3 separate regions of the Homo sapiens genome follow, and all the other regions are linked to region 2. The links come from fine-mapping of genetic effects on gene expression. A gene starts in region 2. Each other region holds a variant in brackets. All regions are shown on one strand. Distances are between the middles of the regions. Region 1 overlaps ENPP1 (ectonucleotide pyrophosphatase/phosphodiesterase 1). Region 2 holds the start of ENPP1 (ectonucleotide pyrophosphatase/phosphodiesterase 1). Region 3 overlaps ENPP3 (ectonucleotide pyrophosphatase/phosphodiesterase 3).

What was found. PIP is the estimated chance that this variant, and not a neighbour inherited with it, causes the effect.
Region 1: its variant is the best candidate, but not a certain one, in a credible set for the expression of ENPP1 in pancreas (GTEx, PIP 0.83).
Region 3: its variant is the best candidate, but not a certain one, in a credible set for the expression of ENPP1 in fibroblasts (GTEx, PIP 0.68).

Annotation. Positions count from the first base shown.
Region 1 is chr6:131,881,576-131,892,324 of GRCh38, forward strand. It overlaps ENPP1 (ectonucleotide pyrophosphatase/phosphodiesterase 1), which reads left to right. Exons shown (of 25, transcript NM_006208.3): 21 at 770-899; 22 at 2,119-2,199; 23 at 3,356-3,488; 24 at 4,987-5,149; 25 at 8,766-10,749. The coding sequence ends at 8,936. Among named protein-coding and RNA genes, the nearest start is that of CCN2-AS1, 15 kb to the right of the region's middle. The variant C/CTCT (reference allele first, on the strand shown) is at 5,249.
Region 2 is chr6:131,802,316-131,813,064 of GRCh38, forward strand. ENPP1 (ectonucleotide pyrophosphatase/phosphodiesterase 1) reads left to right here and starts at 5,705. Exons shown (of 25, transcript NM_006208.3): 1 at 5,705-5,960. The coding sequence starts at 5,721.
Region 3 is chr6:131,739,904-131,750,652 of GRCh38, forward strand. ENPP3 (ectonucleotide pyrophosphatase/phosphodiesterase 3) reads left to right here. Exons shown (of 25, transcript NM_005021.5): 24 at 321-477; 25 at 6,883-7,507. The coding sequence ends at 7,053. Among named protein-coding and RNA genes, the nearest start is that of CTAGE9, 34 kb to the left of the region's middle. The variant A/G (reference allele first, on the strand shown) is at 3,815.

The DNA of each region.
Region 1 (10,749 bases), 79 kb after region 2:
CATTTTACTATATAAAAGCTTAAAATTGACCAGCGCGGTGGCTCACGCCTGTAATCCCAACACTTTGGGGGGCTGAGGAGGGCAGATCACGAGGTCAGGAGTTCGAGACCATCCTGGCTAACATGGTGAAACCCTGTCTCTACTAAAAATACAAAAAATTAGCCAGGCGTGGTGGGTCACACCTGTAATCCCAGCACTTTGAGGGGGCTGCAGCGGATGGATCACCTGAGGTCAGGAGCTCAAGACCAGCCTTGCCAACATGGTGAAACCCCATCTCTACCAAAAACACAAAAATTAGCCAGGCGTGGTGGCAGATGCCTGTAGTCCCAGCTACTCGGGAAGCTGAGGCAGGAGAATCGCTTGAACCTGGGGGGCAGAGTTGCGGTGAGCCGAGATTGCGCCGCTGCCCTCTAGTCTGGGTGACAGAGTGAGACTCCATCTTAAAAAAATAATAATAATAAATAAATAAATAAATAAATAAATATTTAAAATTGTGTAGATAAAATCATTCTAAACATTATTTCATATTAGCATAGCAGAATCTGAAAATATTTGCATAAATATGACAATTAATATCTTTAATATTGTAAAGCATTTTTACACTTTAGTTAGAAAAAAAGATGAATATACTAGTAGGAAAATAGGGAAGGACATGAGCTGACAGCTAGAGCTTCATAATTTTATGATGTAGTTCACCTTTAAATATTAATAAAGCAATTTTCTTCTCTGTGCCTGATATCTGAGAGTTCTTCTCATTTTCGTTCTTCAGGACAGTTTCTCTACGGAAGACTTCTCCAACTGTCTGTACCAGGACTTTAGAATTCCTCTTAGTCCTGTCCATAAATGTTCATTTTATAAAAATAACACCAAAGTGAGTTACGGGTTCCTCTCCCCACCACGTAAGTTTTTTCCTCTCCTGACCTTCCCTTTTCTCCTTTTTGTTTTCTTTCTTGTTTATAAATCCTACCATACATTATAGGGTAATATATATATTACCTATTATATATATATAAATATTACCTATTTTATATATATATTATATATATAATATATATAAAGTATATATATTACTATTTTATATATATATAGCTATATATATATAGCTTTGTTTATTTATTGGTGAAAAATTGTGGATTTGGTCTAGAACTACCAAGGGAAAAATTTTAATCATCTAAAACTTGAATTTTATAAAATTTTCTTTTTGTTGGGAGGGTAGTTGATGTAGTGCAGATATGGTAAGCAGAACACTTCATGGTTCCTTTCTGCATTTCTTTTAAACAATTTGAGAATATTGTGAAGGTGGAATATATATATCAAGTTGGAAGAATATATCAAGGTTCTTAGGAAGATAACTTTGTTAGGATAAATAACTTTGTTGTTTAAAAAGAAAATGCGTTTGTCAGAGAAGTAGGTAAAGGTAGAGGCTTACATATGCTTGCTTTTTCACTGATCCAGAATCTCTAGGGAATGGCTTTTTTGAAGCTAAGTATTCTATTTTTTGAAATGGCAAATTTGTATGTTGATGAGAAGCCATTTTGGGGCCAGCCTTAAAAGGCAAAAATCAGAAAGCTCCAGGTGCTCAACTACCGTCAGCATCCAGTTCAGTTCCCAGAGTATGTGTCTGAAGTCAGAACTTGGCTATTGCATTATAAAAATAGACCAGGTCCAAGCCTCAAATTCATACAGAGAAGCCTTGTATGGTGTTTCGAGACAGACATCCTGTGATGTTTTTTCTGGGTAGCAGGTGTTGTTCTGGAGCCAGATGTTCTCTTTTTTCTTTTCACTGTGAAAAAGTGTAAGGAAAGAAGATTGTCAACACAATTCCTTTTAGTTGAAATGAGGGCAATAACGTTTGAATATGTTTAATTTGGGGCTCTTGTTATTAAAGTTTATGTTTCGTTGACATGCTCATCTTGAAAAGACTTCTTAAATATTTTATTTTTGTAAAGGACTTGACCAAACACATTACATTTTCCCTTGACCCTGTACTTGGGAAAGTTTTACAGGTTTAAGATGGTACTCAGCTAATTTTTAAAAATGCTCCCCTAACCATGAGAAACTATAATTTCCTATGTTATTTGTGAAGAATGAAAAAGTTGTCCTCTTTTCTCTTTGTAGAACTAAATAAAAATTCAAGTGGAATATATTCTGAAGCTTTGCTTACTACAAATATAGTGCCAATGTACCAGAGTTTTCAAGGTAAATAATGTTAACTCTATATTTGATAATTTTAATGAATTTGTGCACATATAGGCATAATTCATATGTAATAGGACTTATGGTCTAAATTAAATGAATTAATACCAAATACATTCTTAAAGGTTTAACTTTGAGAATACTAGTACACAAAAATTCTACAAATTATTAGAATTATCATGTATTCTAATTGTATAATTGTTTGCAAACAGTTTTGGTGAGAAAGTATGTGATGCGCTTCCTAAAGTTATCCAGCTAATACAGTCTGCTAACACTTATATTAACTTTCATTCGGCTTCCTTATTTAACTTTTTGGAAGTTCTTGATAATTGTCTATGTTTTCAAATGAATAGATTTTACATCATCATTAACTATTGCAGCATTTGACTTTTACAGGAATAAAAATTTAGTTACTTAAATTGATGTATAGAATATCAAAATATAAGCATATAAGGAGTTTTTAGTCTAATTTATATCTAGAATACTTGTGAATATTTCAAAGTTAATATTCAGATATTAATAGGAAATCGGAATAATATGCCTTGTTTGTGTTTGCGATGTTGCTATGCTTAATGATGACATATGATCACAATTTCAACATGATGTACTTGTTCAGGGATGTCTCAAAGAGAGTTGGGTTCAACGTTTGTCTGTGAGTCCTTTCAAAGGCCAAAGCTGAACAATGAATTTTTGGCCTCACACTAAGATTAGAGCCAAGGCTGGGTGTGGTGGCTCATGCTTGCAGTCCCAGCCCTTTGGGGAGTCCAACTCAGAAGGACTGCTTGAGGCCAGGAGTTCAAGATCAGCCTGGGAAACAGTGAGATCTGGTGTCTAGTCTCTACAAAAAATTTTAATTAGCTGGGCATGGTGATGTGCACCTGTAGTCCTAGCTATTCTGGAGACTGAGGCAGGAGCATCTCTTGACCCCAGGAGTTTGAGGCTGCAGTGAGCTATGATTGTGCCACTGCACTCCAGCCTGGGTGATATAGCACGACTCTGTCTCTAAACAAAAAACAAAACAAAACGAAGACTGAAGCCAAACTTGACTTTATCTTTATTTACTATAAATGCTAATTTTGAATCATGGTGTTAATTTATTTCACACGTCAACATGGTCCCTTGTTCTTTTGAAACTACACTGGCTTCTATCTTGTTTCAGTTATATGGCGCTACTTTCATGACACCCTACTGCGAAAGTATGCTGAAGAAAGAAATGGTGTCAATGTCGTCAGTGGTCCTGTGTTTGACTTTGATTATGATGGACGTTGTGATTCCTTAGAGAATCTGAGGCAGTAAGAACATATTTCATTACTCTTAAAAATAGGAATTACCATCCAGTAGAAATGGGATTACCATCCAGTTGAGTCAACAGAACCTTTTTTATCCAGTGTCGTATGTTTATGTGTATGACACTTCTGACTACACAGGAAGCCTCTTGAAATATCTGATTAATTTTGATGTTTTGCTCAATGTTCAGTAAAATATTTTTAGGTAAAAAAGTAGTGTTTCTCACCCATTCAGTTCAGTTGAATAATTTTTGCACTCAGTTTAAATGCTGAACTCATTTAAGATCTCTGTGTGGCTGATTGTTAAGATATGATCTTAATATATTGTGAGTCAGAAGATGAAGAACTCTATGGTGTGGCTACAGATATCCTGAGTCTAGGAATGAATAGGGTTATAAAGCTGCAGTGCTTGGAGTCTGGTGGCCTTGGGTGAATGTTATGGCTTTTACCCAACTGTGGCTGGAGGGGCATGATAAAAAGCAACCGTCTGAAGGAAACCATCAGTGGTGCTTTTTTAAAAAAGAGAGGGAAAGAACATCTTGGAAACTGGTTGATCTTTATTGAAACAATAATTACAGCAGTTTGGGAAGCAATTTTGCTGTTAAGTCCGTAGGAAAAAGACTGAGATTCCACTGAGATTCAGCCCCTCTCAGAACTTTCCTACTCTCCCAGGCTGACTTAGATATATGTGACTTACAAAATACATCAGAAAGCACATCAATTTGCAAAGTTACAGTTTTTTACTTTCCCTTGAGGCATAAAGCTGCCTTAGAAGCTGTAGCACTGGAGAGGATACAGAAGAGAACTGCATATGCTTCCTACCCACGGCTTCACCCAGAGCCCTCTGTTTAAATCTGTTTTATAGATTATGTTTCTACATAAGGTCATATTTGAAAACAATGATTCCACTGCCTTAAATTTTGAAAGATGTTGAAAAAACAAACACAGCCTTAAAATAGGAGAATGACTATGAGGTAAAGATGTTTGGGACATCTTTGATAATATACTTCAGTTTAAAAAATTAAGTTATTAAGGAAGAAAATCCAGTTAGAACAAACAATTCATGACAACATGTCCTCTCTGAAGGGGCTGGAATAGAAAATTCCTAACCAGTTCTTTCTCTGCCCACTATTTGTCTATAATCGCCTAGAAGTTAAGACTATCAATAATGGTTTACACTCTTGGTCATAGGTGTTCAAAAATGACATTTTCTTTTCTTTAGTGTTTCAATTTCAATGTCTTTAGGTAGAACTAAAAGAATTCTAAAAGTCAATAAACTTCTACAGAAAATAAAAATTATTTGGAGTGTGTTTATCTGCCTGTCTTCTAATTATTGCTCTCAATCTGGCAGAGTATGTTGAGGTATTGTGATTACTAGCTTCTTATATTTAATTATTTGTTTGAATTTGATTTTTATATGTATTAAAAGCATGCTCTACTGAAATATTCATCAAAAGGAAGATAGTTATTTCTTTCTTAAAATGAATATTGGCATGTTTTACAGAAAAAGAAGAGTCATCCGTAACCAAGAAATTTTGATTCCAACTCACTTCTTTATTGTGCTAACAAGCTGTAAAGATACATCTCAGACGCCTTTGCACTGTGAAAACCTAGACACCTTAGCTTTCATTTTGCCTCACAGGACTGATAACAGCGAGAGCTGTGTGGTAAGTAGCTTTTGTATATTTACTTTGCATGTTGAAAATCTAGACATATGCATATTTGTTTATGTCACCCATCTGACATTACAGTGAGAGAAAGCACAA[C/CTCT]TGAGTACACATGGACTTCGAAATTATAGGATGCTTTTAAATTTGATCTTTTAAGATGACATATCTTTGGGGAAGACTACCCTTGTCTGCTTTTACTTTTTTCTTTTTTTTTTTTTTTTTTTTAGAGATAGGGTCTTTCTATGTTGCCCAGGCTGGTCTTGAACTCCTGGCCTCTTATGATCCTCCTGTCTTGGCCTCCCAAAGTGCTGAGATTGCAGGTGTGAGCCACCCTGCCTGGCCCCTTTGTCTGGTAAAGATACTAAAAATCAGATCAGAATCAAACTTTGTATGGCTTAACCACTAAAGTCTAGGTTTATCTGAGGTATGGATTTTCTCTTTTTTTAAAACTGGATGTATAATTTCAAAGTGTCAGCACTGTTATAAATTAAAGTTGTTAGACAACATTTCAAATTTTCTGTGTATCACTTAATTATAAAAAATCTTTTCCTTTCTTATCGTATTGTCATCCCAGTGTGTTTGGGAATAATTGTTTTATATTATCTTATTTGCTCAGAATTTTAAAAATCTACATTGTAGATTGGGACATCAAGACTGCATAACATTTTAGCAATTTTTTTTTTTTTTTTGAGACAGAGTCTCACTTTGGCTCCCAGGCTGGAGTGCAGTGGCATGATCTCGGCTCACCGCAAGCTCCGCCTTCTGGGTTCACACCATTCTCCTGCCTCAGCCTCCCGAGTAGCTGGGACTACAGGCGCCCGCCACCACACCCAGCTAATTTTTTTTTTTTTTTTTGAGACAGAGTCTCACTTTGGCTTCCAGGCTGGAGTGCAGTGGCATGATCTCGGCTCACTGCAAGCTCCGCCTTCTGGGCTCACGCCATTCTCCTGCCTCAGCCTCCCGAGTAGCTGGGACTACAGGCGCCCGCCACCACACCCGGCTAATTTTTTTTTTTTTTTTTTTTTAGTAGAGATGGGGTTTCACCGTGTTAGCCAGGATGGTCTCAATCTCCTGACCTTGTGATCCACCCGCCTTGTCCTTCCAAAATGCTGGGATTACAGGCGTGAGCCACCGTGCCTGGCCTTTTTTTTTTTTTTTTTTTGGAGTCTTGCTCTGTCACCCAGGCTGGAAGGCAGTGGCGTGATCTCGGCTCCCTGCAACCTCCGCTTCCCGGGCTCAAGCGATTCTCCTGCCTCAGCCTCCCGAATAGCTGGGATTACAGGCACCTGCCACCCATGCCCAGCTAATTTTTGTATTTTTAGTGGAGATGGGGTTTCGCCGTGTTGGCCAGGCTGTTCTCTACCTCCTGACCTCAGGTGATCTGCTGGCCTTAGCCTCCCAAAGTGCGGGGGTTACAGTCATGAGCCACTGTGCCCGGCCCATTTTAGCAATTTTTAAGTTTTCTCTTATGGTGAGCCAAAATATATTTCTTTCAGAGTACTTCCTACATTTCCTTTTTTTTTTTTTTTCATTGAAGTGACACCAAGTAAGTCTAAACCTGAATCTGCAAAAAGATGTAGCTTTCATACCAGTCCCAATGAATGGGTGGTAGGTACCTGGAGTTAGGATCTTGAGACCCAGTATGAGCTCAGCAGGAAAGAGTGCTGTATCCACTCATTCATTCACTACTACTTTGATTCACCATTCATTCCTTTGATATTTATAATCAGGTGCTCTAGGTACTGAGGACACAGCAGTGAACAAAATAGTGAGCTCTTCTCTGGGCCCAAGAGTAGAATACAATGATCCGTTTGCCATCCCTGATGGTAGTAGTCTTTCTATATATCGTTAAAATTCATGAAGATATGTCTCTCCTTAATTGTTTCTATGATAAACTTTCAGAATTACTTGTTCCTATAGAACACATTTCTCATTATTTTTCCCTTTATTCTTTAGAATTAAATACAGAATAGCAAGATTTTAGTTGGTTGCCTGATGATTATCTGACTCCACTGAAAGTTGTCAGTTTTGTGGGCATTGTTGGAAACATGCAGCTATTCCCTGCTTCATTATTTCGTTTGAGAGATTATATTGTCATTGAATGTATCAATTAGAGTAGGGTTCTGCAGCAAATAACAGAAACCCCTTTGCAGTGGCTTAAGCAAGTCAGGGATTCCTCATGGAACAGCAAGTCCAGCTGCACACAGTCCTGGGATGGCGCTTTGGGTCAACTGCACCATTAGGGACCCAGAACTTTTCCCTCTTTCTGCTCCACCATTCTTAGCATGTGGCTTTGGCCCACGTGGGCTTCTTCATGCATCTTTGTAGGTAACACATTCTCATAAAAACTAGTATTTGTGTAGTACATTTGCACACATCATTACGTTTGATCCTCAAAATAACCCGATGAGGAGGATACAGATAAAGGAATCAAGACTTATATGTTAAATAACTTTCCTTAGTTTACCTGATACGATTGTCACAGAACCAGCCTCTTTTAAAAAAATTTTCAACTTTTAAGTTCAGGGGTACATGTGCAGGATGTGCAGGTTTGTTGCATAGGTAAATGTGTGCCATGGTGGTTTGCTGCACAGATCATCCCGTCACCCAGGTATTAAGCCCAGCATCCATTAGCTATTCTTTCTGATGCTCTCCCTCCTCCCACCCCCTGCCCTCCAACAGGCCCCAGTGTATTTTCTTCCCCCACACGTGTTTATGTGTTCTCATCCTTCAGCTCCCTCTTATAATTGAGAACATGAGGTTTCGATTTTCTGTTTCTGCATTAGTTTGCTAAGGATAATGGCCTCCAGCTCCATCCATGTCCCTGCACAGGACATGATCTTTTATGGCTGCATAGTATTCCATGGTATACATGTACCACATTTTCTTAATTTAGTCTATCATTGACCATATACACCATAGTATTCCATGGTGTGTATGTACCACATTTTCTTGATCCAGTCTATCATTGTTGGGCACTTAAGTTGATTCCATGTCTCTCCTATTGTGAATAGTGCTGCACTGAACATATGCGTGCGTGTATCTGTATAATAGAATGATTTATATTCCTGTGGGTATGTACCCAGTAATGGGATTGCTGGGTCCAGTGGTATTTCTGCCTCTAGGTCTTTGAGGAATTGCCACACTGTCTTCCACAGTGGTTGCACTAATTTACACTCCCACCAACAGTGTAAAAGCATTCCTTTTTCTCCACAACCTTACTAGCTAGCGTCTGTTGTTTTTTGACTTTTTAATAATAGGCATTCTGAGTGATTCTTTACATTATTCAGATATTCTTTCCCATGCCATGTAATTTCTGTTTTCCCCCTTTTTTTAACCCCACGCCATTGAAGTTTCTTAAACCTATGTAATGCAGGACCATCTGTTCCAGGTATAGTTTCTTTTCCCCAAACTTGAAGCATCTAATTAAACAAACATGCATGGTATGTATTAGAAGGAAAGCTACTCAAGAGGAGAGATGATGCCTAACAAATCATGTGGCACGTTCCACTTCAGAGCTGAAATCTCGTAAATGATTAAACTGGGGAGATGGAGCACTTATAGAAGTGAACTGAGTGTTCTCTTGGTAACTTTTCTTTTATATTTCCTATTCTCCTAGCATGGGAAGCATGACTCCTCATGGGTTGAAGAATTGTTAATGTTACACAGAGCACGGATCACAGATGTTGAGCACATCACTGGACTCAGCTTCTATCAACAAAGAAAAGAGCCAGTTTCAGACATTTTAAAGTTGAAAACACATTTGCCAACCTTTAGCCAAGAAGACTGATATGTTTTTTATCCCCAAACACCATGAATCTTTTTGAGAGAACCTTATATTTTATATAGTCCTCTAGCTACACTATTGCATTGTTCAGAAACTGTCGACCAGAGTTAGAACGGAGCCCTCGGTGATGCGGACATCTCAGGGAAACTTGCGTACTCAGCACAGCAGTGGAGAGTGTTCCTGTTGAATCTTGCACATATTTGAATGTGTAAGCATTGTATACATTGATCAAGTTCGGGGGAATAAAGACAGACCACACCTAAAACTGCCTTTCTGCTTCTCTTAAAGGAGAAGTAGCTGTGAACATTGTCTGGATACCAGATATTTGAATCTTTCTTACTATTGGTAATAAACCTTGATGGCATTGGGCAAACAGTAGACTTATAGTAGGGTTGGGGTAGCCCATGTTATGTGACTATCTTTATGAGAATTTTAAAGTGGTTCTGGATATCTTTTAACTTGGAGTTTCATTTCTTTTCATTGTAATCAAAAAAAAAATTAACAGAAGCCAAAATACTTCTGAGACCTTGTTTCAATCTTTGCTGTATATCCCCTCAAAATCCAAGTTATTAATCTTATGTGTTTTCTTTTTAATTTTTTGATTGGATTTCTTTAGATTTAATGGTTCAAATGAGTTCAACTTTGAGGGACGATCTTTGAATATACTTACCTATTATAAAATCTTACTTTGTATTTGTATTTAAAAAAGAAAAATATTCCTATCCTGCTCACTGGTAATTAACATAGGTTTAAAATGGCTTCAAATGTGGCCCTATAGACGGTTAAAATTGTACCTTATCTTGGCAAAACTTCAGAGCACCAGTCAGTGCATGCAAGGTGCCATTTTTTATTGAGATGCTTAGAATGTTTCTTTCTGTGCACAAGACTTACCCTACCAGCAGCAGAGCCATTCTCTGTTGAGTGGTTCATTTTGAAGTTCCACAGATTGAAGAGAACATGCCACCAATCACCTCACATCTTCTTGGTGGACATGATAAATGACACAATGAACTTGATTTCTTTACTACCTTGACTGTAGCTTTTTATCCCTACCTGTGAACCTTCAAAGACTGCATTAACTTTTAGGCTACATAGGTCCAATTGAGGTATAATATCAGTACACCAAAGATTTTTATATGTCCTTCGTGTGACCATTCTTCAACGGCCTAAGGGCCAGCTGCAAAGACTTTTGGAAAATACAATTTACAACTCAAAATTATTTAATAATTTAGGAAGTTGCTTTTTTTTTTTTTTTTTTTCAGTCCTGCAGTTTCCTGAAGCTCTGTATATGATATTTTTTTCAGCCTGCTTCTCTCTGTTGTTCAGATTAGGTAATTTTATTCTTCTGTCTCGAAGCTCACTGATTCTTTATTCTGTCTAATCTGTTCTGCTGTTGAGCCCATTTATTCCTGATTTTTATATTTTAGTTATTGTATGTTTTATTTCTAAAATTTCCATTCAGTTTTTCTTTATATCTTCTATTTGCTGAGAATTTCTGTCTCTTTGCTGAGACTTTCTACGTTTTCATTTGTTTCAAGTGCATTTATACTTGCTTGTTGAAGAATTTTTATGATGGCTGCTGTAAAATCCTTATCAGATAATTCCAACATCTGTCACCTCATTGTTTGCATCTACTGATGGTCTTTTTTCCATTCGGAAACATTTTCCTGTTTCTTGGTGTGTGGAATGATTTTTTATTGAAACCTGGATATTTTTAGGTATTATGTTATGAGACTATGGGTCTTATTTAAACCTTCTGCTTTAGCCAACTTTCTCAGATACCACCACAGCAGGGGAATTGGGAGCACTGCTTCAT
Region 2 (10,749 bases):
TTCGTCATTAGGGAAATGCAAATAAAAGCCACTTTGAGGTACCACCAAACACCTATTCAAATGGCTATTATAAAAGACTGAGAATAGGAAGTATTGCAAAGTATGTGGACTCCTTACCCACTGATATACTGTGAATAGTAAGTGTAGGAGGGGCATATGGACTCCTTACATGTTGCTGGCAGGAATGTACAATGGTACAGCCACATTGGGAAACAGTTTCTCTGTTTCTCAAAAATTTAAATATACGCTTTGCATATGACTTAACAATGAAACTCCCAGTTATCTACCCAAGGGAAATGAAAATGCAGATTCACACAAAGACATGTACATGAATGTTCATAGAAGCATTATTTATAATAGCTCAAGCTGGAAATAATACGAATGTCCAGCAACTGGTGAAAAGATAAAATATGATATATCCATACAATAAATTACTACTATGTATAAAAAGGGACTACTGATATTTGCATCAGCATGGATGAACTTCAAAACATTATGCTAAGTGAAAGAAGACAGACACAAAAGACAACTTAGTATAATACCATTTAAATGAATTTTCTAGAAAAGGCAAAGCTACAGACAGAAAGCAGAGAAGTCTTTGGTTGGGACTGGAATGGGAGTTTTTGATTATACATGTGCAGAAACAAACTTTTTGAAGTGATGAAATTGTTCCAAAACTGGATCATATTAATAGTTGCACAACTGTATAAATTATTAAAAATCACTGAACTGTATGCATATAATGGGTAGATATGATAATAGGTAAATTGTACTTTAATCAAACTTAAAATTCAGGTTACCTGGCAACCCTACATTTTGTTTGAAATAGAAGTGTAAGAGATAATGAAGGAGTGGCAGATACCGTGGTTAACAAAAAGTGAAGGACTAGAAACCAACTTCCTGTAGCAGGTAATCAGCGACAATCTGGGGCCAGTGGTGTGGGGGTAAAAAGAATTTATGAAGATACTTGTAGGTAAAGAAAGTCATATTTATTAGAGCACGTATGAAAATGTGTTGCAAGGGAACAATGGGCAGGCCAGCAAGAGAGGAGCTGACTGCAAGGAGACGAAGGCTTGCTGGGGATGTTCTAGAATGGTGCTTGTGCTGTGTGCTGAAGAGGGCTTTGTGCAGTACTGATAACACCGAGGTTGCAGTGAATTAGCTTGCATTTTTTTTTAATCACCCGAGGGTCTGATGATAGCTGAGTGCAGGAAGATTGTGAGTTATTTGTGCAAGAGGGCTACATGTTCTGGACCACAAAGCAAGGCAGACTTACAGCTTATCTGCTTTATATTTTTGCTTTCCCTCGGTCCCGCCATCCTGACTCCTTTTCCCTAATTAGAACCCCACACTCTCTTTGGATGGTACATGCGTTTTCCATTTTCCCAGGTTCTATTACTCTCCTTTGGATCTTACACTTCTGAATTCTCTCTATTCGTTTTGTTACCTAACTGATCCCTGTAGGCATCTCTCCTTCATCCCAGAGCAGCAAGAATCCTTTCCTTACCCTCTTTGTAGATGCAGGCCCAATAACAGGTCTCAAACCTTCCCAGAGATTATATATAAACCATGCATAATATAGGAGAAAATTAAATCTTTTTATTCTCTCCCTTAGGGGTAGTGAGTGGTTGATTTACAAATGCAAATGATAGATTTAAATGTTTGTGTAAAGTTGAAATGTCAAACATTTTGTTGGCATTTAGAGATATTATCTGAAAGAGCATTTTACAAATAAGGAAACTAAGGCTCAGAGGCTTCTGGTAATCTGTTCAAGGTCACATAGTTATCCAAGCTTCTTGCTCCAGGGGACATATTTTTGTGCTTTCAAAAAAAGAAAGAAAAATCAGGATGTCATACACATTCTTAAAAATAAATTAATGCCACAGAAAAATGTTTTCCCTAGGCCTCACAAAGATTAAAGAGGCTTGTGGGTTTTTTTTCTGTTTAGATTTGGCTAGATGTCTTTCTTGTTTTACTGGCGAATTAGAAGAAAGCTGGAAAAGCTCTGAAACAGCTGCTAAAATAATTACCCTACAGCATATTTCATTTTTTAATCACTAAGAAAAGTTGTTTCAAAGTAATATTTCAAAGTAATAATTAAACATTGATAAATTGTTTTTGTTTGGTGTTTTGGCCTTATCTACAACCAAAGCTTCAAGCACCAAGACAGAAATGTCTAAATATTTATGTTACAATAAAACTTAATAGAAAACTTACACAAAATCTTAAATTATCATCTTTACTGCTATTCCAGATTAGAGTATGCAATCACTAAAACAGAGTGATTTAGGATTAAGGATGAAACATTCATTGTTCACCTTTGCATTAACCCAAAAATTGTGTTGTGGTTTTATATCTCATGACCTTATTGTACTTTGGAATGTGATGGTGAAGCTGTCCCTCAGATCATTTAGAATAAAGAAGACTGAGGCAATATTTCACTATAGGCTTTGCAATGTCTATAGCTAAACCTGAAAATGGCATATCTGACTCATTTTTTTTTTTTTTTTTTTGAGACAGAGTCTTTCTCTGTTGCCCATGCTGGAGTGCAGTGGCATGATCTTGGCTCACTGCAACCTCCGCCTCCCAGGTTCAAGCAATTCTCCTGCCTCAGCCTCCAGAGTAGCTGGGACTACAGGCATGTGCCACCATGCCCTGCTAATTTTTGTATTTTTAGTGGAGACTGGTTTTCATCATGTTGGCCAGGTTGGTCTCAGACACCTGACCTCAAGTGAACCACCCGCGTCAGCCTCCCAAAATGCTGAGATTACAGGCGTGAGCCACCGTGCCCGGCCTTGGCTCATTTTTATTCTTCCGATTTTAGACTTCCAATTGGGTTTTTATAATTACCCATATTAAGTCCCACCTGGCACAGATGAGGCATGAGCATTAGGCAGAGGCCACATCCTGGTGACGTGTGTGCCAGGTCTGTCCTGCAGATGTGCTACATTTTGTTTGGCTTTTAAACGTGCTACATTTTGTTTGTTTGAAGAAACTGTTTCTCTGAATTTTGTAGACAACATTTTGCAACCGGAGAATTCACACAAACATTTAAATTTCCTGCTTCTCTTGAAAAATCTGACCATCTGCCCACACTGGGCACACAATCCTGTTGAATAGATGCTGCAACCTTTAACATGGCACATGGTTTGCCTTTTGCAGTGTGTATAGGGCTGCCTCAGTCAAATATGGTTCATGGCATATTGTGCTTTCAAAAAAAAGAAAGAAAAACCAGGATGTCATACAAAATCTTAAAAATAAATTAATGCCACAGAAAAATGCTTTCCCTAGGCCTTAAGATGTTTGTGACCCTGGAGACTGCACACTGTGTTTTCCAAATGTTAAGTCTTTAAAGTGGTTCGTTGCCTTGAGATGCAGACAATACACTTCTTCCATTTGTTTTGTCAGGTTTAAAGGCACTTTGGATAATGTCTCTGTTGAGTTGCTTTTAGAGGTTTTGACACTCATTTGACCAGTCTCAGTGGAGCAAATCTTTGTCCTTGAATCTGATTTTTGGAAAGAGTCAAAGGAAAATTTGGAGCCAAGTTTGGGGCAGAAAAATATGTGTGATTATGAAACAGTGAAAACCTGTTTCTCTTGGGTGGTTTGTGAGCTGACTCAAAGGTAACTTTTTAAAAAAGTTCAATAATGCTTTGAGGGAAGGCTTTTACTTCTTCCAGATGTCAACTGTCCTTTCTACTAAGCTCTCATAATATTGAAGTAGCTTTGTTGTCTATGGTGACATCCGAGGTTCTTGGTCTCACGGCCACAAAGATCAAATATGTGGACACACACAAAGGGTGAGGTTTGGAGCAGAATTTTTAATAGGCAAAAGGAGGAGAATAGCTCTGCTACAGAGAGGGGTCCCAAAAAATGGGTTGCAATACGTGGTGAAATGCAGGGGTTTTTATAGATGAGCTAGTGGGGAGGCGGTGTCTGATCTACATAAGGAGGGAAAACCCGGTTTCGTGCATATGGCATGAAAACCCGGTTAGGACCAGGTGTGTCATCTGCATAGGGCTTAAGTGTCTGGCAGCCCCGGCCCCAATCTTCTACTATATAGGCAGGTAGCTACTCCGTGTTGCTTATTTCCTTCTTACTGTGCATGTGGTAAAAAAGAGGGGAGGTGGAACCCCCATGGTGGACATGCCTGGCCCCAGTAGCCCCTTCTGTCTGTGCCGCTGCCGGCATCTCCCGTGCAAGCTTCCAGTTTCCTTACCTATGTTTGCAGCCCAATCTTCCAGGTTGCTCTTTGTTAGAAAGGAAGTGATTTCTTGGGCTGCTTTTTGTTAGAAGGTAAGTTCTGCCGAGGGCTCTTTTGCTCATACTATCTGCCTAAATAATTTCTATCTCCTGTATCAATATCCTATGTGTGACTCTATTCTGCATATATGACTTAGGTTTTAATTATTTTGTTTACGAGTTGGTCCTACCCCCCCACCCCCGCTTCCACCACACTTAAGGAAAGATACATTTTAATTCATTTTTTATATGGTATGCATAGTTGGAGGCCAAAAGATTGAGTTGAAGGATTCATTACTTGATGAATAAATGGATGGGTGGATGGATGAGTCAGTATAAATGAAGAGCATCCCAAGTTGACTATTTTAAAGGGATAACATGCATTTTATATTTGTTAAACATTCATTCTCATTTGTAAACACTTGTATATATTCATGTATTCAAAATGTATTGAAAATTAATTGTTTTCCTTGGTACCTGAAGTCAGTCCTGGGTATTGCAAAGTAGTTCGAAGTCACTGGTTTCCCTCTGTCTCACTTCACTACACACTGGTGATTTTGCTAAGTGATGAGCCAGAAAATGTACAAGTTCCAGAATCAAAGGTAAAACAAAACCCACCAAGAATCAGCTCACTGTTAGCGTCCTAGTTGAAAAATAAGGCTTATCAAAGTATTTCAGATTGCATTAACACTTTTGATATAGCTAGGTATCAGTGTCAACCTCAGGAGAGGGCAACGCCAACTCCTGAAACCTTCAATACAGAAAGTCTAGAAAAATAAGCAAATATACATACAAACAATAGCGAGAAGACTCCAGAAACCACATAAAACCGTGGGAATCGAAATATCCCTTACGTGTGTTCAGTACATGTGAACCCACGTATTTTAAGTGGACGATTTCTCTCTCAGAGTACCGTAGGTAGTGGGGGACGGGGCGCAGAGGGGGAGAAACAGAAAGTCGCCTTCCTCCATGGTTCATTTGCATTTCCATCCAGAAACTCACAGGTCGACCCCAAGACTCCACTCTCTCCCGCCTTTGAGAAGCCGGACCGGCATCGGCGGCTGCATCCTTCTCCTCCTCCCCGCTCTATTTTGGGGCCCCATGATCTCATGCCCTCTGCAGACCACACGCTGCAATTCCAGCCCAGCCCGCGCCGCGAGGCCACGCAGGGCGATTCCTGCAAGTGTCGGGAGGGTGGCCGGGGCGCGGGGAGGGGACGGCTTGGGGGGAAGTTTAAGACACGCCCACGTAAGGGACCCAAAATAACCGACACACAGAGTGCCCGAAATCAGACAGGAAGCCAAATAATCCGGGGCGTTGAGTCGCTTTGCCCTGACTGCGAGAGCCGGGTGTAGGGCGGGGAGCCAAGGATCTGACCGCGAGGGGCGGGCGCGGCGGGGAGGGGCGGGGCGGGGCGGGCGGCGCGGGGCCTATTAAAGGCGCGGCCGGGCAGCGGGGCCGGAGCGGCCGGGGCCACGATGGAGCGCGACGGCTGCGCGGGGGGCGGGAGCCGCGGCGGCGAGGGCGGGCGCGCTCCCCGGGAGGGCCCGGCGGGGAACGGCCGCGATCGGGGCCGCAGCCACGCTGCCGAGGCGCCCGGGGACCCGCAGGCGGCCGCGTCCTTGCTGGCCCCTATGGACGTGGGGGAGGAGCCGCTGGAGAAGGCGGCGCGCGCCCGCACTGCCAAGGACCCCAACACCTATAAAGTACTCTCGCTGGTAGGTCCGCGGCCAGGCCCCGGCGCCCGGGAGGGCTGGGAGTACGGGGAGGGCGGCGCCGAGCTCCTGCGCTCTCAGCGCAGTCAGCACCGGGCACCGGAGAGAGGCATGGTCCGGGAGTGCTTCTTCGCCCGCGCGCTCTCCTCCGCAGCCTTTGCAAGTGCCCTACACAGCCGCCCCTGCCAGGTACCTTGCCAGGGCAGGATGGTTCACTCTCACTTGAATTATGGATGCCTGTGAAAGCAGGCTGTTCAAAACGGTCATCCTTAGAAATACTCGACCCCCTGCCCCAGGAGAGTACGGGTTTTTAGAGGAGAAAAATGTCAAACGCGAAAGTTGTTGGTCTTAAGAAGGTGCATCAATGTGTTGCTTCTTTTAGGGGGCTCTGGGCGCAGTATACATGACTTCACTTGGGTTAACTGATTGCAGTTGAAGAGTTAGCGGAGCTCTTTAAGTTTTATTAGGAACTCTACGGAACACTTTTTCCCTTTCGCTCCGTTTTGGAATTTCCTTGCAGGTGCTCAGAAATTCCATGGATGTTCACATTATGTGACTGAAGAAACCTTTATGATTCTTTGCCCACTCTTCTAACCAGAGGCTACACGGTTTGTGTTGCTAACAAAAGCTACCTATTACTCCTCTGCTATTTTGCTATGACATTTGCAGGACCCACAGTCAACTTCATGAAATGTGGGGGTTGGTTTTTATTCTGAATTCATGGTGGGAAGTGCTGATTGAGAGAAGGCCTGGATTCCTGGCTGTTATTATTTGCTGAGGCCTTGCGTAACTGTCCCTAAACCTCAATTTCTAATGTGTGAAAATGGGACAACATCAACTCCCTTGTGCATTGCATGGGATTATTGTGAAAATCAAGCTGAAGAATGTAGGTAGGGAAGTAAATTGAAAACAGCAAGGAAATAGAATCATTTTTATTGTATTATATGGAAATCACAGATTTCTATGTATAGTGTACCCTAAAATATATCCCCTTACATATGATTGAATAATGCTTTGTAGAAAAATTTCTAATTTTTCAAGTCTCCTTTCATTTTGTATGCATTTCCATTTTCACTATATTTGGGACATCATGGAGATGCTATAATACTTTGAGGAATCAATCTTCCTAGACTTAAGAGATGGTGCCGTATGCTTAGTACTTAAAAAGAAGCCTTAGTTTCACAGAATAAGTACCCCAAGCCACATGATGTTTGCATCTCAAGATAAAATTTTGCATCTTGTAACACTGTTTTGAGTCTATAATAACACAATATTGATGAGAACTTAGTCTCTTGAGTCACCTTTTAAAAATTTTGTTAATGGAAGACCTTAGCTTTTACAACCTGATCACTTAAATTGTTTAGTATTAATACCTTGAGGTGTTTCACACACGATGAGGTAGTCGATAATTGTATATGGAATCAGTGTGTAACTCTTGTGTAAAACCATTTCTACATGCCTATAAACCTTTACAGGTTTTCCAATTGCAAAATTCAGGTTTTAAATTTTTCTTGCTCATTTACTTATACATCCACAACAGATATCAGCAAAGGTCTAGTTTTGGAATAAGCTGTCCAGTCTTTGAGACCTGCAGTCAACTGGTCAAACAGCATTCTGTGTGATGATGCTACTCTGGGCATTTGACATGGAAGTGTCCTAGGACTTACTTCCACAAGTAGGACTATTATGGACCTTTTTTATCCATTAATTGGGGTCTTTTGCATCTATTGAATTGGAAAGAATTCTTACTTCATATCTTTTGATGGAACACTGTGAGACATTAACATACAAATGTTACCAAATAGACCTGGTGCGGTGACTCATACCTATTATCTCAGCACTTTGGGAAGTTGAGGCGGTTCCATTGCTTGAGCCCAGGAGTTTGAGACCAGCCTGGGCAACATGATGAAACCCATCTCTACAAAAGATACAAAAATTAGCTGGGTATGGTAGCATGCGTCTATGTCCCAGCTACTTGGGAGGCTGACATGGGAGGTTCAGCTGAGCCAGGGAAAGTTAAGGCTGCAGTGAACTGTGATTGTGCCACTGCACTTCAGCTTGGGTGACACGGTGAGACCCTTTATTGTTGAAATTGCTATTTAGCTACTGAACTGAAAGTGCAAACTCGTATTCTTCTTTCCCTTCCCTACTTCAATACCTTTTTCCCCCAACCCCGCCCCCCCCCCAAAAACTTCCCCAAATAATGGGCTTCCAAATGGAAAAGGCCCCAAAAGCATCCTGACAATTGTCGTCAAAGAGCTCTGGGATATGTCTTCTAGAAAGGAGCTGCAATTATAGAATTCCTTTTGTTTTCAGATTAAACCTCAGCACACTTTTCATAAAGCTGCAGAAACAGATTGAACTAATTGCAACCTGGGGTTGGGATTAGGAGAGGCCCAGCACTATGATCCTCAGCTACACTGTTTTAATTTAGCAGGATAAATAGAAGAGTTGCGTTGCCTTGCCTTTCAGAGGCAATCATGTTGCAGTGGCAATGTAATTTTTACATTACTCTGCAGTTTTCTCAGATAAACTAAAATGATGTAGATGTGTGAGAGTGGATGAAGGAGTGAGGATTCTGTCCTACCCTGGCTTCTCCCCATTGTGGTGGTTGATCTTAGGAGAGGGCCACCAAGCTGTGCTTTAGAGGCTTTTGGCCCTGGGCCCTGGAATGCTTGTGCCTAGGTACTGAGCCAAACTGAGGAAAACAGCAAGAGGGAAAAACAAGTATTATTCTCTACATGTGTCAGTAGGTATGTTAAATATTAGATGCCTTTCCTTGGTTGTAAATGAAGTTTTGAACTGAAGTGTAGACTTCCACCGAGATGTGTTGACTTGGAGATGTATTTAAATATCCTTCTTGTTTCTTGGTGTGATTTTACAGTCATGTAATTCTCAACTACATTGCAATACATTTCTCCAGTTAGCTCCTCAAAAGCATTTTTTTTGTGTTGTTTGTGACCTTCTGCTATACTTATGAATACATATATCTGTGTATCTGTGTATGTGTAAAGGGCTTGCGTATGGGTGGTGGTCACTGAAGACTACTTTCATGTTTCAGTGAAAGAGTTCTTTAAAAAAACATATATCTATATCTATATCTATATATCTATATCTATATCTATATCTATATCTATATCTATATCTATATCTATATCTATATATATGTAGAGAGTCCGTTTGGCTCAAGTTTGAGGACTGCAACCCAGGAGCATAGATTCAAGTTGCCCTGAGTAGATGCTCCTATTAGCAGCAGTTACAAATGGGTTTTTAAAGGAAAAAGGAAGAGGCAGTTCCTAAGTTGTTTATCAAGCATTCATGTTACAATAACGAGCTATTGGTTGGCTATACATTGTTCTTTGTATCACACATTCCAGGAACATGAAGATAGTGGGTGAGGCAGCTGTCAGGAACAAAATGCTTTTAAAGAATTGCCCCTGGGAATGGGTGCAGTGATGTGACTGAAGTCCCATGCTCATGTCCCTCTGGGCCTGATAAATTTTGCATAGTTCGCATATCTCAGACTGCTCTGAGCAATTTTTCTTTCTCATTTCCTCCTTTTAATAAAAATCTTTCTCTTCTTAAAATACTGATGATCAACGTTTTGGATGTAAGTTTGTCCCACATTGCTGGGAAGGCTCATTTCCGGATAGTCTTGTCCCATGTCAGAGGGAATGAGATGGGCAGAAGTACTATCACTTAAAAACTTAGTGAGGTTCCAAGGCTGAATTGGTAGGCAACAATTCAGGGATTGGATTGAAAAATAAGGGGACAGAGCAGCGGGATTTCAGGTCATTCACTTACACTGGAGTTGAGGTATGTTGGGTCATTTCTAAGCATCTAGCTATTATGATGAGTTTTTTGTTATAGAATTTTGTGGTAGACTTTAGACATCTAGAAATACAAAGCATAATCAATTTAAGAATCAAAAGGATGACACAAATAAGGACAATTATCAACAAAACAACTTGAAATACAAATATGAAAAGTGTTCCTATTCCTGAAGGTAACCAAATGAATATTTTAATCCACTTCTTGTCCTGGTCTAAAGAACAAAGTGTTGAAGATCTCCACTGAGGAAGATGTCCACTTAGGCAGGGTAGCCTGATATTGGCCCTTCTAACGTGGCTAGGAGTCCTTTATTTGATGGTATTTTCTATTAAACAAAATCTTCCAGGTTGGAGACCATGATCTTTGATGTTTTTGTCTCCTAAGAGCTTGCTGTTAAAAGAATCCTTAATTAATTTAGAATTTTCAGTGAGAAACTTATAAGGCCTTGACAATAGTGAAGAGTATCACCTTGTTAATGGAAAAACCAAACTCTGTAAAATATTTTAAAGAGCTTTATCCTGAGCCAAGATGAGTGACTGTGGCTCGGGGAAACACTTTCTCAAGGAGTCCTGAGAATGTGCACCTGAGGCAGTTGGATTACTGTGTGTTTTTATATATTTCAGGGAGGCAGGAGTTACTGGCAAAGACATAAATCAGTACATGAAAGGTATACATTGATTCCATATGAAAAGGTGGGATATCTTAAAGCAAGGGCTTACAGGTTATTTATTCAGCATATTCAGAGATTTTTTTTTTGAGACAGTCTTGCTCTGTTGCCCAGGCTAGAGTGCAATAGCACAATCTCGGCCCACTGCAACCTCCCGCTCCTGGGTTCAAGCGATTCTTCTGTCTCAGCCTCCCAAGTAGCTGGGATTACAGGCACACACCACCACTCCTGGCTAATTTTTTTGTATTTTAGTAGAGACAGGGTTTCACTTTGTTGCCCAGGCTGGTCTTGAAC
Region 3 (10,749 bases), 62 kb before region 2:
CTATTAAAAAAAAAAATCCAAAGTACCATTAGAAGTAAATATATATATATATGTGTGTGTGTCTTTACATAGTGTTTTTCATATATATATTTACATATTTATACCAGCTTGTATTCCTTTGGTGGAGTCAGATTTTGCACTTAAAACTTTGTATGTAAGTTATTTAAAAAGTACCTAGCATATAGTAAAATGCTGTCAAACTTAGAATTATAAGAATTATTATTTTACATGTATATGAAAAAAACTATGTAAACACACTTATCACCTTTAGAAACAAAAGTATAATAACATCAAAACATGTTTTCAATTATGTTTGTAAGACATTTAGCCAACACTGATGTTCCCATCCCAACACACTACTTTGTGGTGCTGACCAGTTGTAAAAACAAGAGCCACACACCGGAAAACTGCCCTGGGTGGCTGGATGTCCTACCCTTTATCATCCCTCACCGACCTACCAACGTGGAGAGCTGTCCTGTGAGTATGCTTTGGGAGGGTCCAGGACCCGAGAAAATGAGTCAGAGCTCATTTGGGTTCTCATAAAAGTGGCTCTGACTAAAACATTTTTTTTAGGTGTTTCATGGGAAAAGTTATAACACAAATGACTTCATTTTTAGGCTTTTCCTTAGGCTATTGATCTCTATGTAATTAATATCAATTTAAACATATATCTGCATAGTTGAACATATATATACCCCATGTATTTTATTTATATACGTTTTATTCACATTCACTAATAATGAAAGAGGTGAAATCTTGTTAATCTCTTTTTTCTTTTTTTATTTATAACATGACAATTGTATGTATTTATGAGGATAGTGAGATGTTTGAATGCGTGCATACTTTGTATAATGATCAAATCAGGATAATTAACATATCTACCACTTTAAACATTTATTTCTTTGTGGTAATAGCACTCAAAGTCCTCTCTTCTAGCTATCTTGAAATATACAATACATTGTTATTAACTGCAGCCACTCTACTGTGTAATAGAACCACCAGAACTTATTTTTATTCTGGCCACAAATCTTAAAGTTCTTCCCAATGTTAGCACTAAATTAATGTTTCTGAATGAGTATATACATGTAAAAATTCCATCAACTTGAACCATGAGGTGTGAAATTGATTATACACACACACACACAAACACACACACACAGTGCAAGTAACATTCTTTTTTTAAACATCATTATTAGGCTACCTCAAAATCCTTTTTGGATCAAGGCAGATTATATGTAAGTAGTTAATTCGACTTGCATATAAATTCCTTATAGAAAAAATATGTATCCTGGAACTTAGGTTTTACTGAAGTCATTCAACAAACATATTGAGTACCTATTAAGCACATAGTATCATGATAGAAACTCTTTAGAATGCACAAAGGAGGAACACATTGTCCCTGCTTTTAAAGAGTTCATATACAACTTCAGTTTATATATGAGATATAGGCACACAATTTAGTCAGTCAATAATACAAGAATTATTCTAAAAACTAAAAAGTAAAAGAGGTTGCAAAGTTGGGATCAATTGACAATTAATGTTAAAAGGATTTAATATTTGAAATTAAAATCACATTTGGCTGGAATGATCAATAAAGATTTCATAAAATAAGGTGTAAGTAGGGCTGTGCCCTGAAAGATGGATAGAATTTGAGTATATTGAGAAGACTACAAAGAGTCTTCCATGGAGGGTGGGTATGAAGAATGAAGAGGATTTAGTAACTGATTGGATACAAGAGCCCCCACCCCAAAAGGAAACTCAAAGATGAATCAGATTTGAATGTTAGTAATTAGGAAAAAGGCAGAAAGAGGAAGGTTGGGAATGAGAACTTTTTGGCAGGTAGATAGGATAAGCTAAGGATAGGCATTTTAAGTTTGTGGAAATGGGCATTGATGTGGAAAGTCCCATAGGCAATTAGAGCCTGAGAATTGAAGCTTGGGATCTAGGCCAGATTGGGATTCATCTATATTCTTTCAGGTGTTCAATGCATGAGTGCCTTCACCATGCTGTGCACTATAGGAGGTGCTCACAATTAGAAATCCAGTAAAATATTAGAAGAAAGAGATAAGTGATGTAAGAGAGGGACAGATAAACTGCTGTAGTAGTATTTCAAAGGAGAATTACTTCTTGACAGGGAGGGTGACATTTCAGTTGGGTCATGTAGATACGATTTTACTTGAGTGTTTAAATTGTCTAAAGAAGGTGGCCAAGTTTAGAGGCTGAATAGTGAGCCACTCACTATTCTTAAAATGAGGAAGAAGAGTTTCTGAACAGGAAACTATCAGGAGATGTTGTTGAATTGAATCCCTTCCTACTTTTTCTGTCAGCATTTTGTTTGGTTGAGACAAGGGTAAGCCATTATTCTTTACTTCCTTTTCCAATGACAGACATCAATGACTGATACGATGTGGTACTCTTTACCATGAAATCTGGATTAAACAGTTCGTTATTACAGAGGTTCTAGGTAGATATGATGGAGTGATTACAATGAGTACACAAAGAAAAAAATATTTGCTATCCCTGGTCTGGGCCCTTTTGACCTTCTATTAGGACTCTTGAAAATGAATCTTAAGTAGATTTGTGGTCTCCTCTCCTCTTCTCATTTGTCAGTGTGCACTACTACCAACTTACTCATCTTAAAATTTAGTTTATATTTTGTCATAGCCTCTCACCCCAAAACTTCTGATTATCCTGAACAACAACAACAACAACAACAAAAATACAAAGAAACAAACAAAAACAACTTCCAGCCTGTACTTAAGTCTCTTCACAATTTACCCTCAGTTGACCTTACAGGCTATAAGTTCCAGGTCAATTGGAGTCCTTGAAATTACTTGAACACATCTTGAGTTTGCTTACCTCATCACTGTTGCCTATGTTCTTCTCTCCTCTAGAATTTCATTCTTTTCCATCTGCTAAAAATTCCATCTGGGCGTCAAGGTAAAGTGCAAATAATATGAAGCTTTCCTTGATTATTCAAAGTAGAAGTGATCTCTCCAAAGTTAACAGAGCATCATCTCTATTGAATAGGACATCATCAGTAATAAATTGGACATATCCAAGATTTTGAGGAATTTGCAGTATAGTAATAAGAATGTGACATCTGTATAGATAATTATTAGACAAAATGCAATGAGTATAAAGAAAACTTAAGCCAAGCTATGATTATAAAAGAGATTGCAAAGTTAATAAGAGTAGCTGTCAATTAGATATGGGGAAGGGAAAGGCAAGATGAGAGAGAGGCAAAGATGACTAAAAATCCAGGGCATGACTGACCAGGAAATGTATACGATAGATTATCTTTTGTTTTGAGAAGGATGGATTTGCTCTTGGTGGTCTTCAGTTTGACAGACTAGTTGAATATTTAGGAGGATATATGAGAAATAGTATAAAACAGAACTTAAATGCATGGATTTTGGAGTTGGACCTCCTGGGTTCAGTGAATGACTTCGTTTCTTTGGGCAAATATGTTAGTTTCCTCATCTATTATATCTAATAAGTATAAAATATTCACCTCCTTTTATGAAGTTTGTAAAGATTAAACAAAATAATCTATATAAAACCCTAAGACTTCCCAATATAAAAAATGGTGGCTATTATAAAGGAATCATATCTTAGGATGAAGTTACATTCTAAAGTCGACAGAGGCCAGGCATAGTGGCTCACCTGTAATCACAGCACTTTGGGAGGCCGAGGCAGGCACATCACCTGAGGTCAGGAGGTCGAGACCAGCCTTTTACTAGAGACCCCATCTATACTAAAAATACAAAAATTAGCCAGGTGTGATGGTGCATGCCTGTCATCCCAGCTACTC[A/G]GGAGGCTGAGGCAGGAGAATTTCTTGAAACTGGGAAGTAGAAGTTGCAGTGAGTGGAGATCAGGCCACTGCACTCCAGCCTGGGCAACAGAACAAGACTCTGTCTCAAAATAAAATAAAATAAAATAAAATAAAATAAAGTCAATAGAGAGTGAAATTGAATCTCCTATATGCAAATCATCCAGAAAGTGTAGTACATTCACAAACTGTTTCTTAGTAAGTCTAAACCAGCCAATATTTCCAATAGCATTTGGATAGGTAATTGTGCTTTGATGCACCTGATAAAATAGATGGCTGGCTTTAAACATTGCATTGTATGGAAACTCTGTACTTTAAATATTTGAATTACACAATGTACAGAAGTACTCCTACTATTAAGAGGTTCCAGGGAACTGAGATCAAGCTATAGGAATGATAGATTCACAATTTTATCCCACACTTGGTGTAAGGAATTAGATCATATTTCCTTATTTATTTTGTCCTTTCCTTGTTCCTTTCATCTTTTCTTCCCTCCTTTTTCCTTTTCCCTCCTCCTGTCATCTTTGTACTGTAAAATTCTGTCAGATAAATGAGAATGTAGCCATTAGTCCAAGTGACTTTCATTGTAAGTTACTCAGCAGATATGGAAAATGTAGGTATGGAACTTGGAGGAGAAATCAGAACTGCAGATCTAGATTTGGGATTAAATCATTGGTGTGAAATACAATTGCCAAAGGGGAGAAAGTGGAAAGAAAAGATCCCAAATCAAATTGAGGAAAATATGCTTCCAGGAAGTATAGTCATCTGAGGAAACAGAAGGTATTATCAAACAAGTAAACAGTAGAGTTATGGATAACAAAGGAGGAACTTCAGAAGCCTGGGGTAGCTAACTAATTGAAAAGCCTGAGGACAACCCATTCAGTGAGGTCATCATTGACAAAGTAGTTGCATTAGCATGATAACAGCAATCACTGGACTGTAAGTGGCTAAGGAGAGAGAATAAGAACGTGGATAGGGCAGAAAAATGCTGAAATCAATATTGCCTCAAAAAATGAGTTGTATTTTGGGGATATACAATACTCTTAATTCTGTAACAGGTCATTTATACACACACACACACACACACACACACACACACATATAAATATCAAAGTATATTTAAATATAGCTCATAAAACTGTATAGCCTATTCTGTTGGCATGGACTAGTGCAGCGAGAGCAGTTGTCTACAGCTGGCTTCTGTTCAGATTAGTTGGTGCCAGCGACTTACTCAGGTTAAATAGCTGAAGTATCGTCTCTGCATAAGTATAGTTTTGTGTTATGCTTTGTGGTCATTTCCCTGCAAATTTAAAAAAGGGAAGACTGTCAGGTGCTGGGTAAACATTTAGTTGGATGGATGCCAAGTAAGTCAGGAGAGAGTAGAGTCGTATAAACCAAATGGGAGAAAATGTTATGGAAAAAAAAGTGATCAAAGATATTAGGTGCTGCTGAAATGTGCAATAGTAAAGGCAGAAGAGAAAAACTTCTAATTAGATTCCCATTGAAAGAAATAACTCTAACATGGCGCATTTTTTTTTTTTTAATATTAGCTCGCATTGTGAATCTGACACAAGTGCTTTAATGGTTAGGAACAAAAAGTATTTCCTCTTACTCTTCCTCTGGCTCAGATAGTGGCTATCTGTATTAAGCCTGCATACTTAAACAAGTAAACCACTGCATCGAAGTCAAATGAGAATCATGAAAACACAGTAATCTGATTAAATAAACTTTGAAACTTTCTTATTATGTGAAAAGTTAACTGAACTTTAGCAATATCATATGAATACCAGAAAATTATTCTTTATAATAAAGAATAAAGAATGTCATAGAAACCCATGTTTCTAAATTATTGAACTAACTTTCATATTGTAAAAAAAATCCAAAATAAAAAGGTCAAGAAATAACTGAAAAGATGCATAAATAAACAATAGTCAGCATAATAAAATATAAACAGACATAAAACACTATTTTACACCCACGGTTTGGCAAAGATGTGGGGAAATGGGAATTATCTTTCACTGCCTATAGAACTGTAAATTGGTACGAAGACTTTGAGGAGTGCTAGGTTTAATATCTGATAAAGTTAAAATTGAATGTACTCGGCCGGGTGCGGTGGCTCATGCCTATAATCCCAGCACTTTGGGAGGCCAAGGTGGGTGGATCACCCGAGATCAGGAGTTTAAGACCACCCTGGCCAACATGGTGAAACCCCATCTCTACTAAAAATATTAAAAAATTAGCTGGGTGTGGCGGCGGGTGCCTGTAATCCCAGCTACTTGGGAGGCTGAGGCTGGAGTGCAGTGAGCCAAGATCACACCATTGCACTCCAGCCTGGGTGACAGAGTGACAATGTCAAAAAAAAAAAAATTTGAATGTACTCTATGGCCCAACAATTTTATTAATATATCCTAGAAACTCATGCTCTTGAACACAGGAGGCATATACCAAGTTATTTATTATAGCATTATTTATAGTAACAAAAATTTTATCAATATGTAACGCAAAATTTAATTGTTTTGCATTTAAATGAGGAAATATCACAAACCACAGCTAAGAACAAGTCACTTAACAAGACCTAGATATATCACTATAGATTACAAACGTTAATACCGAATGAAAAAAATTGTAGAATACCACTTATAATATTAACATAAGTTTAAAAACTCATCAGTACTACATATTGTATAGTGATGTACAGTAAAAGTTTGAAAAAACAGACTGGATTCACCCTGATATAAAGATGTTTAGTTCTGAACAGAGGAGCCCTGGGGACTTAACTTCATCTGCAATATTTAATTTCATTAAAAAAATTACATCTGAAGTAAACATAAAAATAGATAAATTTTGACAACGGTGTTCTATGTTAGTTATAGTATACTTTGTACTTGTGTTTTCTTTTTATTTTTAAAAACTAAATTTAGCTGTATCAAATTAAGATTTAAGGAGGTAAAAATCATCGGCAAAAAGACAACTTCTAAGCAATAAAAATATTTCTGTTCATGAAAAATACTGCCTTGTGAAAAAAAAAGTGTTGTGCTTTTCTTTTTCAGGAAGGTAAACCAGAAGCTCTTTGGGTTGAAGAAAGATTTACAGCTCACATTGCCCGGGTCCGTGATGTAGAACTTCTCACTGGGCTTGACTTCTATCAGGATAAAGTGCAGCCTGTCTCTGAAATTTTGCAACTAAAGACATATTTACCAACATTTGAAACCACTATTTAACTTAATAATGTCTACTTAATATATAATTTACTGTATAAAGTAATTTTGGCAAAATATAAGTGATTTTTTTCTGGAGAATTGTAAAATAAAGTTTTCTATTTTTCCTTAAGTCCCCTAAAAGCCATAATTTTTATTATTCCTTTTTCTCTTTTTTCAATTCTATGAATATGTATTATTTTAAAGTTATATTTTTCACACAGAGATGATGCTATATTACACCTTCCCTTTTTTGTTGGTTTCTTAAACTCTAATCTCATGACAGATTATACCTTCCTTATTACTTGTTTTATCTTACTCAGAATCTTTGAATATATTTTTCTGCCCAGAATTATCTAAACAAAAGGGAGAACAAAAGAAGTATGTCTCACTTGGGAACTGAATCAACTCTAAATCAGTTTTGTCACAAAACTTTTTGTATTTGACTGGCAATGCTGATTAAAATTAAAAATGCACAGAACTTTTGCGCTGTTAATTTCACCTGTAAAAACTGTCCCAACAGATGTGCTTGGCACAAATGCATGAAAATGACATCTTTTATGATAGCAAAAACCAGAAAACAACCTAAAAGACTGGTTAAACAAATTATGGAATCTGTTTAAACAAATACTGTTCCATCACTATAAAGACAGAAGTAGATCTATATATATCTTGAATGTATCACTATTATTAAGTGAGAAAGCAAGTGGTAGAACAATGTGTGTAGTCTACTGTCATTTTTCAGGGGTCGGTAAACTTTTCCATAAGGGACTAGATGGTAAATTTTTTAGGCCATACAGTCTCTCTTAAAACTACTTACTCTGCTGTGGCATCAAGAAAGCAGCCATAGATAATACAAAAAAGGAGTAAGAGTGGTTGTTCTATTAGTCTGCTTTCACATGGCTATAAAGAAATACCTGAGACTGGGTAGTTTATAAAGAAAAGAGGTTTAATTGATTCACAGTTTCGCATGGCTGGGGAAGCCTCAGGAAACTTACAATCATGGCAGAAGGAGAAGGGGAAGCAAGCACTTTCTTCACAAGGCGACAGGACGGAGTGAGTCTAAGCAGAGACAGGACAGAGTGAGTGTGAGCAGATAAAATGCCAGACACTTATAAAACAATCAGATCTCATGAGAACTCACTCACTATTACGAGAACAGCATGGGAAAAACTGCCCGCATGATCCAAACACTTCCCTCCCTCGGCATGTGGGGATTACAATTCGAGATGAGATTCAGGTGGGGACACAGAGCCAAACCATATCACCTATGTTCCAATAAAACTTTATTTACAAAAACAAGTGGAGGGCTAGATTGGGTCCCTGGGCTGTAGTTTGTCAGCCCCTGTTTCATATAATAAAATCTGGGCTGGGGGAAGCAGAAATTAATAGTAAAAAAGATAACATTTTTATTTTTTGCTCTTTGTATTGCCTGAAGTTTTTTTTTTTAACTCCTATATGTATTTCTTTCATTTTCAAAATAGAGTTATGAACCAAAGAGATCCCAGCAATTATTTCAGGGTCAATGCTATTGGTCAGATTTTGGGGTTGCTAGACTGGCAATTTTCCAGATATTTCTCTGATATAAAGATCAGTTCATCCAGGGACACAGGCTTTGTAGCTAATGAAAAATCTTGTGACCTGAACTTCAAGGAAAACAAATTCAATTGCTTTCTATTTCTATTAGAATTTCAACTGAATTATGGTTATTAATTACAACCAATTAAGATGTTAGTTTATTCCCACTGGATTTTTTTTAACATAGTTTCTTCACATGTAGAATTTAGGTAAAAAATTTATGCAGTGCAAAATGTGCAATACAGAGAGGCTGCAAGTTAAGACACAAATAGGAAATTATTTCCGGATACATAGCAACAATGTTAATACTCTTCATATAGAGACAATTTTTCCAATCAGTGTTCTCCTGCCCCACCATGGCCTGGAAACTAAATAAGATCACCTGGAATTTAGAACTCACAATAGGAAGACAAATGGTGGGTGTTTACAACCCTGAAATGAGTTTAATAACCCTGGATTTCCTCATTACTTCTGAGTTGGTCTGAAAGTGGCTAAGTTGTTGACATAAAAATAAAAAGAGAAAAATTAAAACTATGTATTTTTTTTGAGATGGAGTTTCATTCTGTCACCAGGCTGGAGTGCAGTGGCGTGATCTCAGCTCACTGCAACCTCCACCTCCCGTATTCAAGCGATTCTCCTGACTCAGCCTCCCGAGTAGCTGGGATTACAGGTCCCCGCAACCACACCCGGCTAATAAAATTTCATTTTTTACACAGAGATTGTGCAATATTATACCTTCCTTTTGCGTATTCATTATTCCATTAAAAAAGAAATATGTATATGTAAAGCCAGTTTGAATGAATGAATACTAGTGATTTAATGGATCATGAAATTATAGAGGATTTGGTGTATCTACTTAATAACTTTCAGTATGTAGCCTATATTTACAATGAACTTGTTTTATTTTTAAAAATCTGAAAATGTAAACAATAAAGTTAGTTACACTTTAAAATATTATTTAGAAAGGATTTTATATGTACACAAAGTTTGCAAGAATAGTATAGGCCAGGCACTGTGGCTCACACCTGTAATCCTAGCACATTTGGGAGGCCGAAGTGGGCAAATTACTTGAGATCAGGAGTTCAAGACCAGCCTGGGCAACATAGTGAGACCCTGTTTCTATTAAAAAAAGAATAGTATAAAGAACTCTTTATAACCCGTACCCAGCTACATCAATTAACATTCTCAGTATGTACATTTATATATAGTTTTATTTTTCTCACTGTACTTCTGAGAGTACATTGTAGTCATTATGCCCATTAACCCTGAGTACTTTAGTGTGCAAAGATCAAGGACATTAACTCACAGTAAGTTTAATGTTGGTACAATGCTATAAATAATCTAATTTATGAACCTATCAATTTTTTTCATATTTTCAACAATTCTTTAATGATATTTTCTTTTTTGGTCTAGGATCTGAAAGAGAATCATTCATTGTATTACTTTTTTCTCTTTGGTCTCTTATAAGGTGCAACAATTCCTCAGCATTTAACAAATAATGTTGATACTTTTGAGGAGTCCAGGTCATTTATTTTGTAGACCGTCCCTCAAATGGGTTTGTCTGGCATTTCCAGATGACTGGATTAACACAGTGCATTTTTGGCAGGGACATTACATTAGTGACATTTGTCCTCAGTGCTTCATATTTAGAAGCACATGATGTTCATTTGTGCCATCATTAATCCATGCCAGATTTGATCAGTTGGTGATGTTAGTGTTCATAAGTTTCTCTTCTGTAGAGACAGTATTTTTCCCTTAGCAATTTATAAGTTATTTGTAGAAGGATATGGAGACCCTACACATATCCTGTTTCTCATTAAATTTTTACCCAACAGCTTCAGTATCCGTTAATAATCTTTCCCTGATTCAATTTTTACGATGATAGTTGCAAAGGGAGTGATTCTTAGAGACTCCATTATTTTACGTTTATCAGCATTCTACTATAAGCAAAAGTGTTCTCTCACTTATTTTGTTATTTATTTATTTATTATTGTTTGTACAGACTCATTTTTTTTATTCCAACAGATTAGAATACATTAAGATCATTACTTATGTCAGTACTCAAATAGTCCCAGAGTTGGTCAACAGGAGCTTCTTTAAGTGGGGTCCTGGGTCATTTGTATATACCCCATTATTTTTTGA